Linked DNA regions of Homo sapiens. The protein of the gene in region 2 purifies or fractionates together with the protein of the main gene of each other region. This does not show direct contact. Each region holds a gene or a part of one and is shown on either strand. Other genes may lie near its edges.

What was found. Proteins that work in one complex are often made in the same cells at the same time.
Region 1: the proteins of PTCD1 (region 2) and GUF1 purify together in Homo sapiens (affinity purification with mass spectrometry; one large-scale study listed by BioGRID and IntAct). This does not show direct contact.

What each region holds. Positions count from the first base shown.
Region 1 is NC_000004.12:44,695,420-44,698,576, forward strand, and holds part of GUF1 (translation factor GUF1, mitochondrial), read left to right. Parts: intron 1-195; coding exon 196-315; intron 316-1,988; coding exon 1,989-2,025; intron 2,026-3,124; coding exon 3,125-3,157. UniProt on the Homo sapiens protein: Promotes mitochondrial protein synthesis. May act as a fidelity factor of the translation reaction, by catalyzing a one-codon backward translocation of tRNAs on improperly translocated ribosomes. Binds to mitochondrial ribosomes in a GTP-dependent manner.
Region 2 is NC_000007.14:99,421,673-99,425,325, reverse strand, and holds part of PTCD1 (pentatricopeptide repeat-containing protein 1, mitochondrial), read left to right. Parts: coding exon 1-531; intron 532-1,368; coding exon 1,369-1,551; intron 1,552-3,653. Other genes in the region: ATP5MF-PTCD1 (ATP5J2-PTCD1 fusion protein), read left to right, coding at 1-531, 1,369-1,551. UniProt on the Homo sapiens protein: Mitochondrial protein implicated in negative regulation of leucine tRNA levels, as well as negative regulation of mitochondria-encoded proteins and COX activity. Also affects the 3'-processing of mitochondrial tRNAs.

The sequences.
Region 1 (3,157 bases), on a different chromosome or scaffold from region 2:
ATATTCTGTAATCATACATTACTTTTTTAAATCAGAGAAGTTGTTCATGATTCAGAGAGTAAGAGAGATTTATAAGTAAGTTCCATTTGAACCTCCTTAAGAGATCACCTTTACACTGATTATGCAACTGGCCTAGAAAAATACTTGAAATATTCTTATTTAGGATATATAAACAGTTGTATTTTTCTGTCTCAGAGACAAAGCTCATTCAATTGGCAAAGCCATATGTGAACGGCTGAAGGATTCTCTTCCTAGGCAACTGTTTGAGATAGCAATTCAAGCTGCTATTGGAAGTAAAATCATTGCAAGAGAAACGTGAGTTGAAATTCATTTTTGGTCTTGAGCCAGTTTCAGAAATGATATACCTAAAAAGTGAAAGAATATTGAACATTTTAATTTAACATTGGCCTAAGCTTTCTTACTTGTAGAAACAGTATGATGGTGCTCTCCAGTTTTCTGATTTAAGTAATGACTGTTACTTTGAATTACTTATATAACAGCACTGGGTGATGTGATCTGCAGTTAGTATAACGTATACGAGTTTGAGGAACTGTTTTAATTTCCACTCATATCAATGTCTATACTGAATTTCCTGGGTAAGGAATTTCTTTTATGGTTTTATCCCTTTAGGTAGATTATAGATTAATAGAAACTGAAACTAAAAGGTTTTGTCTTCCAAATGACAAAATTACAATTTTTTTTTAACCCAAAGCATTTAATATTGCTTCCCCACTTCCGCAGAGCTAGGGAGGTTATAAATCAAGGAATGCCAATACCATGTTAGGATTTGCATTCTAGATTAGGGACCTCACATGAATTATAGTAGATATGGAAGACAGGCTAATTTGTGTCGGACACTAGTCTTTCATGAAATGTAATACATAAATCAGAACACTGGCTGGGTGTGGTGGCTCACATTCTGTGATCCCAACTACTTGGGAGGCTGGGGCAGGAGTATTGCTGTGAGACTAGTCTGGGAAACATAGTAAGACCCAGTTTTTTAACAAAAACCCAAAAATAACAATGAAGAACACTGAATAAGCTGCTCTGCTTGTGACAGCAGGTGCAGGATGTGTCTTGTAGCACTTCCCATTTCCTTTCCTTAATGATCCTAAGACTTCTAGGAAATAGGAAGTATCTCCTCAGTTATGAAAAGCTGGAAATTGCTATTAAATTCGACCTTAACCCAAACCTAATGAGGAAATACAACCATCATGTTAATATAGACTTGAGGTTAATTTTAGGCCCACTGTTTGAAATACATTTCATTTCCTAACACTGTTTTGCTTTGGTTAGTTATTCTGTGTTTTGTAAATACTGAGATCAGGCAGAGTAGAAATGATAACTAGGGAACATCCTGGAAAGTGCAATTTAAGACAGTTAGCAATTGCTCATTCTAAAATAAGTGTGTTGAGATAATACCTTAAAAAATTGGTTTTTCTGTCTTAAGGAATACATAAAGATGGAGCTATTTTCAAAATTAGAGTGATCTAGAAATTTCTCAAACATTGTAGAAATAGATTAGTTTATAACTGCTGGGGTGGATATATCAAGCTTCCTAGCCACTCCATCCACATTCAGTAGAGGCAGTAATAAGATAATAAACATATTTTGTTTTTCTGAAGTAGTAGTGTTAATTTTTAGATTGGTAATTTTTAGATTGAGTAAAAAATAACCTAATGTATTTCTTGTAATCAAGGTCACATCATGCTTGAATTTGGCCTAATCAAGCCTACCACAAGCCTTGACCATTTTTTCTTAATGTGTGTTGATAAACATGTTGAATTTATTTGTTCTTTTATACCAAGTACATGAAAATAAATACAAGAGCATTTGAAGTATCTAATTAATATGCTTATGGCAATTTTACATAGGTAATGATACTATCATTAAAATTTTCTAGTAAAGGGGAGATTGTTTTTGGTAAGGAAGTGCTTTTAAACAGTATAATGGAATTATGTACTTAAACGAATTTTTCTCTTTTACAGTGTGAAAGCCTATAGGAAAAACGTTTTGGCAAAATGTGTATGTATCTAGTTGTATTTATTCTACTTTATAACTTTTATGGGCTTTAAATCAAAGGGGGCATAAACTTATTGATTTCCATTGTTGGTTTTTATACATTCTTTGTTTCCAAGTTCCCTTTTTGAATAGGTAAATTTCAGCTTGACCATGGCAACCTGTTCATTTTGCCCATATCTTTTAAGTATTTTTTCATCTTATTTATAAAAATTTACAAAAATATTTATTAAAATTGTTCTTATATGTAATACTAAGGAAGATTTTTACAACAGTTATTTCTATGATCTGGGTAACATGTTTTCTTGATCTAACATATAATGAAAGATTTTGAAAACAATGGCTTTATCTTACAGTTGAAGTCTACCTCTCCTGACATTGTTTTGCCAGTTTGCTGTTATTCAGCTGTTAAAAAATTATTCTTGCACCAGCTCGGTGGCTCACAACTGTAATCCCAGCACCTTGGGAGGCCAAGATGGGCAGATCACTTGAGGCTAGGAGTTCCGAGACCAGCCTGGCCAACATGGTGAAACCGCAGCTTTACTGAAAATACAAAAATTAGCCAGGCGTGGTGGTGCATGCCTGTGATCTCAGTTACTCGGGAGGGTGCAGCATGAGAATTGCTTGAGCTCAGGAGGCGGAGGTTACAGTGAGCAGAGATCCTGCCATTGTACTCCAGCCTGGGTGAGAGGGAAACTCTATCTCAAAAAAAGAAAAATTATTCTTAAATATCGTGAGAGTTGAATGATCAATTCTTTCTCCAAAGGCACATTTATTCCTATGTGATTAAGAGTTACCTATATTAGACTGTGGCTTTCTAGTCAAAATTCCAAGCCTAGAATCAGTAAGGAGATTGATAATTCTTCCTTGACATGCATATTATTATACTAGGTTTCCTTGGGAATCTTCACCTCCATCCAGATTAAATCCTGTATCATTCTTTGAGAAGACAGTAAAATTAGATCTGCTAGGAAGATTAGAGAGATGTCTGCCTTATGGATAATAATTTGGTATGGTTGTTAAGGTTGTACTGATGCCGCTGTAATCATATGATTGTTTCTCTTTAGAGTGACTTAGACTTCCAATGTTTTAAAATATTTTTCAGTATGGTGGTGATATTACCCGAAAAATGAAGCTT
Region 2 (3,653 bases):
GAAGCCAGAGTGCCCGGCAAGGCCCAACCAGAGGTGGATACTAAGGCAGAGCCCAGCCACACAGCAGCCCTCACCGCAGTGGCCCTGAAGCCACCTCCCGTGGAGCTGGAAGTCAACCTCCTGACCCCCGGGGCCGTTCCCCCTACAGTGGTCTCCTTTGGAACGGTGACCACCCCAGCTGACCGGCTGGCCTTGATAGGGGGCCTGGAGGGCTTCCTGAGCAAGATGGCAGAGCACAGGCAGCAGCCCGACATCAGGACCCTCACGCTACTGGCCGAGGTGGTGGAGTCCGGGAGTCCTGCAGAGTCCTTGCTGCTGGCCCTCCTGGATGAGCACCAGGTAGAGGCCGACCTGACATTCTTTAACACGCTGGTGAGAAAGAAGAGCAAGCTGGGAGACCTGGAGGGGGCCAAGGCGCTGTTGCCGGTCCTGGCAAAGAGGGGCCTCGTCCCCAACCTGCAGACATTCTGCAACCTGGCCATCGGGTGCCACAGGCCGAAGGACGGTCTACAGCTTCTCACAGACATGAAGGTGAGTGGACTCGGGCCTGGGCAGGACACCCATGGTGCTCAGGAGCACTCTGCAGCTCAGGAGGAAAGTTTGAGGGGTCTGCAGACCCCCCACCTGGAGAGGATGAACTGTGCATGGGGCAAAGAGAGTGGGGTCAATGACCTTCTGGTCTTTGGTCCCATTTTGGGGGAAGCAGACCCCAGTGAGTGCTTCAGGGCTGGGCGTAGAGACACACGGATGTTCCCATCCGGAAGAAGGTGGCCGTGGGTTGACACAGGGCTGGGCACAGGCCTCGGCCCCAACACTCTAGAGGTATGGCAGGGATTCTCAGAATTCCTGAGGGGCCGTGGGCAGTTTTCAAAGCCCCCGAGGTCTGTGCCTCCCACCTAACCCCCATTGGAAGTGCTGCGTGGATTTCATCCGACCACAGCAGAGGCTGCGTCCTGGGTTGTCGGTGTCCCCAGGTCCATCATCCTCTGGCTGTTTTCCTGGACCCTACCGGGCTCACCCAGCCAAGGCTTGCACTTTTCTAGGCCAACCACCACCTGGTGACCGTGCGTCACAGGAAGCCCACCCCAGGGAGCAAGGAGGTGGTGTCTCCCACATCATTTTCTGCCTGAGTCAGTCGGTGTCTGAGAGCAGCACGAGCGTCCTTTTCCGCAGCTTCTTTAGGGCTGAGCAGAGGGGCTGGGCTTGGCTTTCCTGCTGGAGAGGGATATTCAGCACATTGTTGCTGCCAAGTTTGCCTTGCTGGCCCTGGCCGCTGGTCCCGGGAGCCAGCTTGATTGACAGAGGGTGGGAGCTGCTGGGTCCCAATGGCTGCCATCATCTTGATTCTACGATGTCCCTGTGTTCTAGAAGTCCCAGGTGACCCCCAACACTCACATCTACAGTGCCCTCATCAACGCGGCCATCAGGAAGCTGAACTACACCTATCTCATCAGCATCTTGAAGGACATGAAGCAGAACAGGGTCCCGGTGAACGAAGTGGTCATCCGCCAGCTGGAGTTTGCAGCCCAGTACCCTCCCACCTTTGACCGGGTGTGTGCCCCAAGCTCAAAAGCTCATCAGCTCCTTCACCATTGCTACCCCCTCCCCCCACCACCCAACCCCGGTTCTGGCCCTTGGGATTGTGTTGCCATGCTTGAAACTGTCCAGCAGCTTCCCTTAGGAGCAGTACCCAAGTCTGTAGACCACAGCCTGCGAGTCCCTGTCTGCGTGGCTCATCTCATGTCTCAGCCTTGCGTTTGCTTTCTCTGTCTGTCCCAGTGGCCTTCTGTCAGTTCGCAGAGGCCACCAACCTCTTGCCTGCTTCGGGATTGGTGTTCCCGCTGCCTCAGGTGGCACCCACTTTTCCTGGAGGTCTCTGCTTAAGTGGCCCTCAGACATGCCCAGCTGGCTGCCGCTCTGACCTGGGATGAAAGTCTCCCCTCCCCCTTCCCACTCTGTTCCTTTATGCCGTGTCCTACAGTCTTGGATCATGTGCTCATGGGCAGCCCTGGCCTTCCCTGTATCAGGCTTCTGGAGGCAGAGGCTGTCTGCTGTGCTCATCTGGGTCCCCAGCACCTGCACGTTGCTGGGTACTCCAAACAGGTTGTCGCTTGCTCAGGGACTGGGCAGGCAGTGAAGTGGTGTCATTGTCTGGGGTGAATACCTGAGATTTGTTGTGAGCCAAGATCGCGCCACTGCACTCCAGCCTGGGCGATAGATGGAGACTTGGTCTCAAAAAAAAAAAAAAGAGGTTAAGAGCTGAAGTTTAATAGGCGAAAGAAAGAAGAGCTCTCGCCCGGTGTGGTGGTGAAAAAAAAAAAAAGAGAAGAGCTCTCTCCTTGCAGAGAGAGGTGCCAGAGAAGTGGGTTGCCACTTCCATAGTGTAATGCAGAGGTTTTGTAGATGAGCTTGGGGAGGTGGTGTCTGATTTACAGAGGACGCAAAAGATTAGTTGGACCAGGTGTGCCATTTACATAGCATGTATAAAAGCTGGTGCCCCACCCTAACCTTTTATTATGCAGACAGGTGGCCATCGCCATGTTGCCTGGTTCTTTACTGTACACATGGCAACAAAGAAGGGAAGATGGGGCCCCCACGTTGAACATATCTGGCTCCCAGGTAGCCCTTTTCTGTTGGCACAGCCGCCAGCATTTACCCCTGCAAGCTTCCAGTTTGCTTATCTATGTCTGCAGCTCGATTTTTCAGGCTGCTCTTTGTTAGAAAAGAAATTATTTGGGGGCTGCTTTTTATTAAAAGGGAAATTTCGCCAAGGACTCTGTTGCCCTTATTATCTGCCTAAATAATTTCTTTCAACCTCCTGTATCAGCAGGAGCAGGGCAGAGTCATGGAATCTGCTTTGTCACGGCCACAGCCTCTCCCTGCTGTTCTGAGGCTATCAGGCTCTGGGGTTTGGCTTTTGGGTCCATCGAATCACACTCTGTGCTGAGCATCTCCGGAGCATCGAGAGCCACTATGGCTTGAAGCACAGCCCGGATGGGGCGGAAACAAGTAAATGGGCAGGGACACACACAGCTAGAGGGTGCGGGGTCAGGAACGCCGTGCAGGTGTCACGCCTGAATGCCATTTTGAGGGCTTCCTACAAATAGGTGGGACAGCAATGGAAATTGTGTCTGGCTGAAGGCATAGCTGGGCATTTTTGAACTGTGTCTGTGCTTTGAACTGTTGGTTGCAAGCCTTTTCTCATTGATTCCAGGGTTTTTTATATATTCTGGGTACTGGTTTTTTGTTGATCACATGTTGTGCATATCTTCCTAGTGGATTGTCTCTTCCCTCTGGCGTAGGGCTCACTAGGGGTTCAACTCGACAGTCACAAGACTATCATAGACCTAAAGCATATCATATTTAAGTCACAGACAGATGTCCCTGACTTAAAGATGATTCTACACAGGATTTTTCAACTTTGCAATGGTTTTATCAGGATGTAACTCTGTAAGGATCGACTTTGTGCGGGGTTAGTTTCTACTGAATGTATATCACTTTTGCATAATTATAAAGTCAGGACCCTCTGCTGTGTTGCCAGCAATAGATGCATTTTCCTTTTGTTTTTTATGAGATGGAGTCTCACTCTGTCACCCAGGCTGGAGTGCAGTGATGCGATCTGGCCTCACTGCAACCTCTGCCGCCCAGGTTCA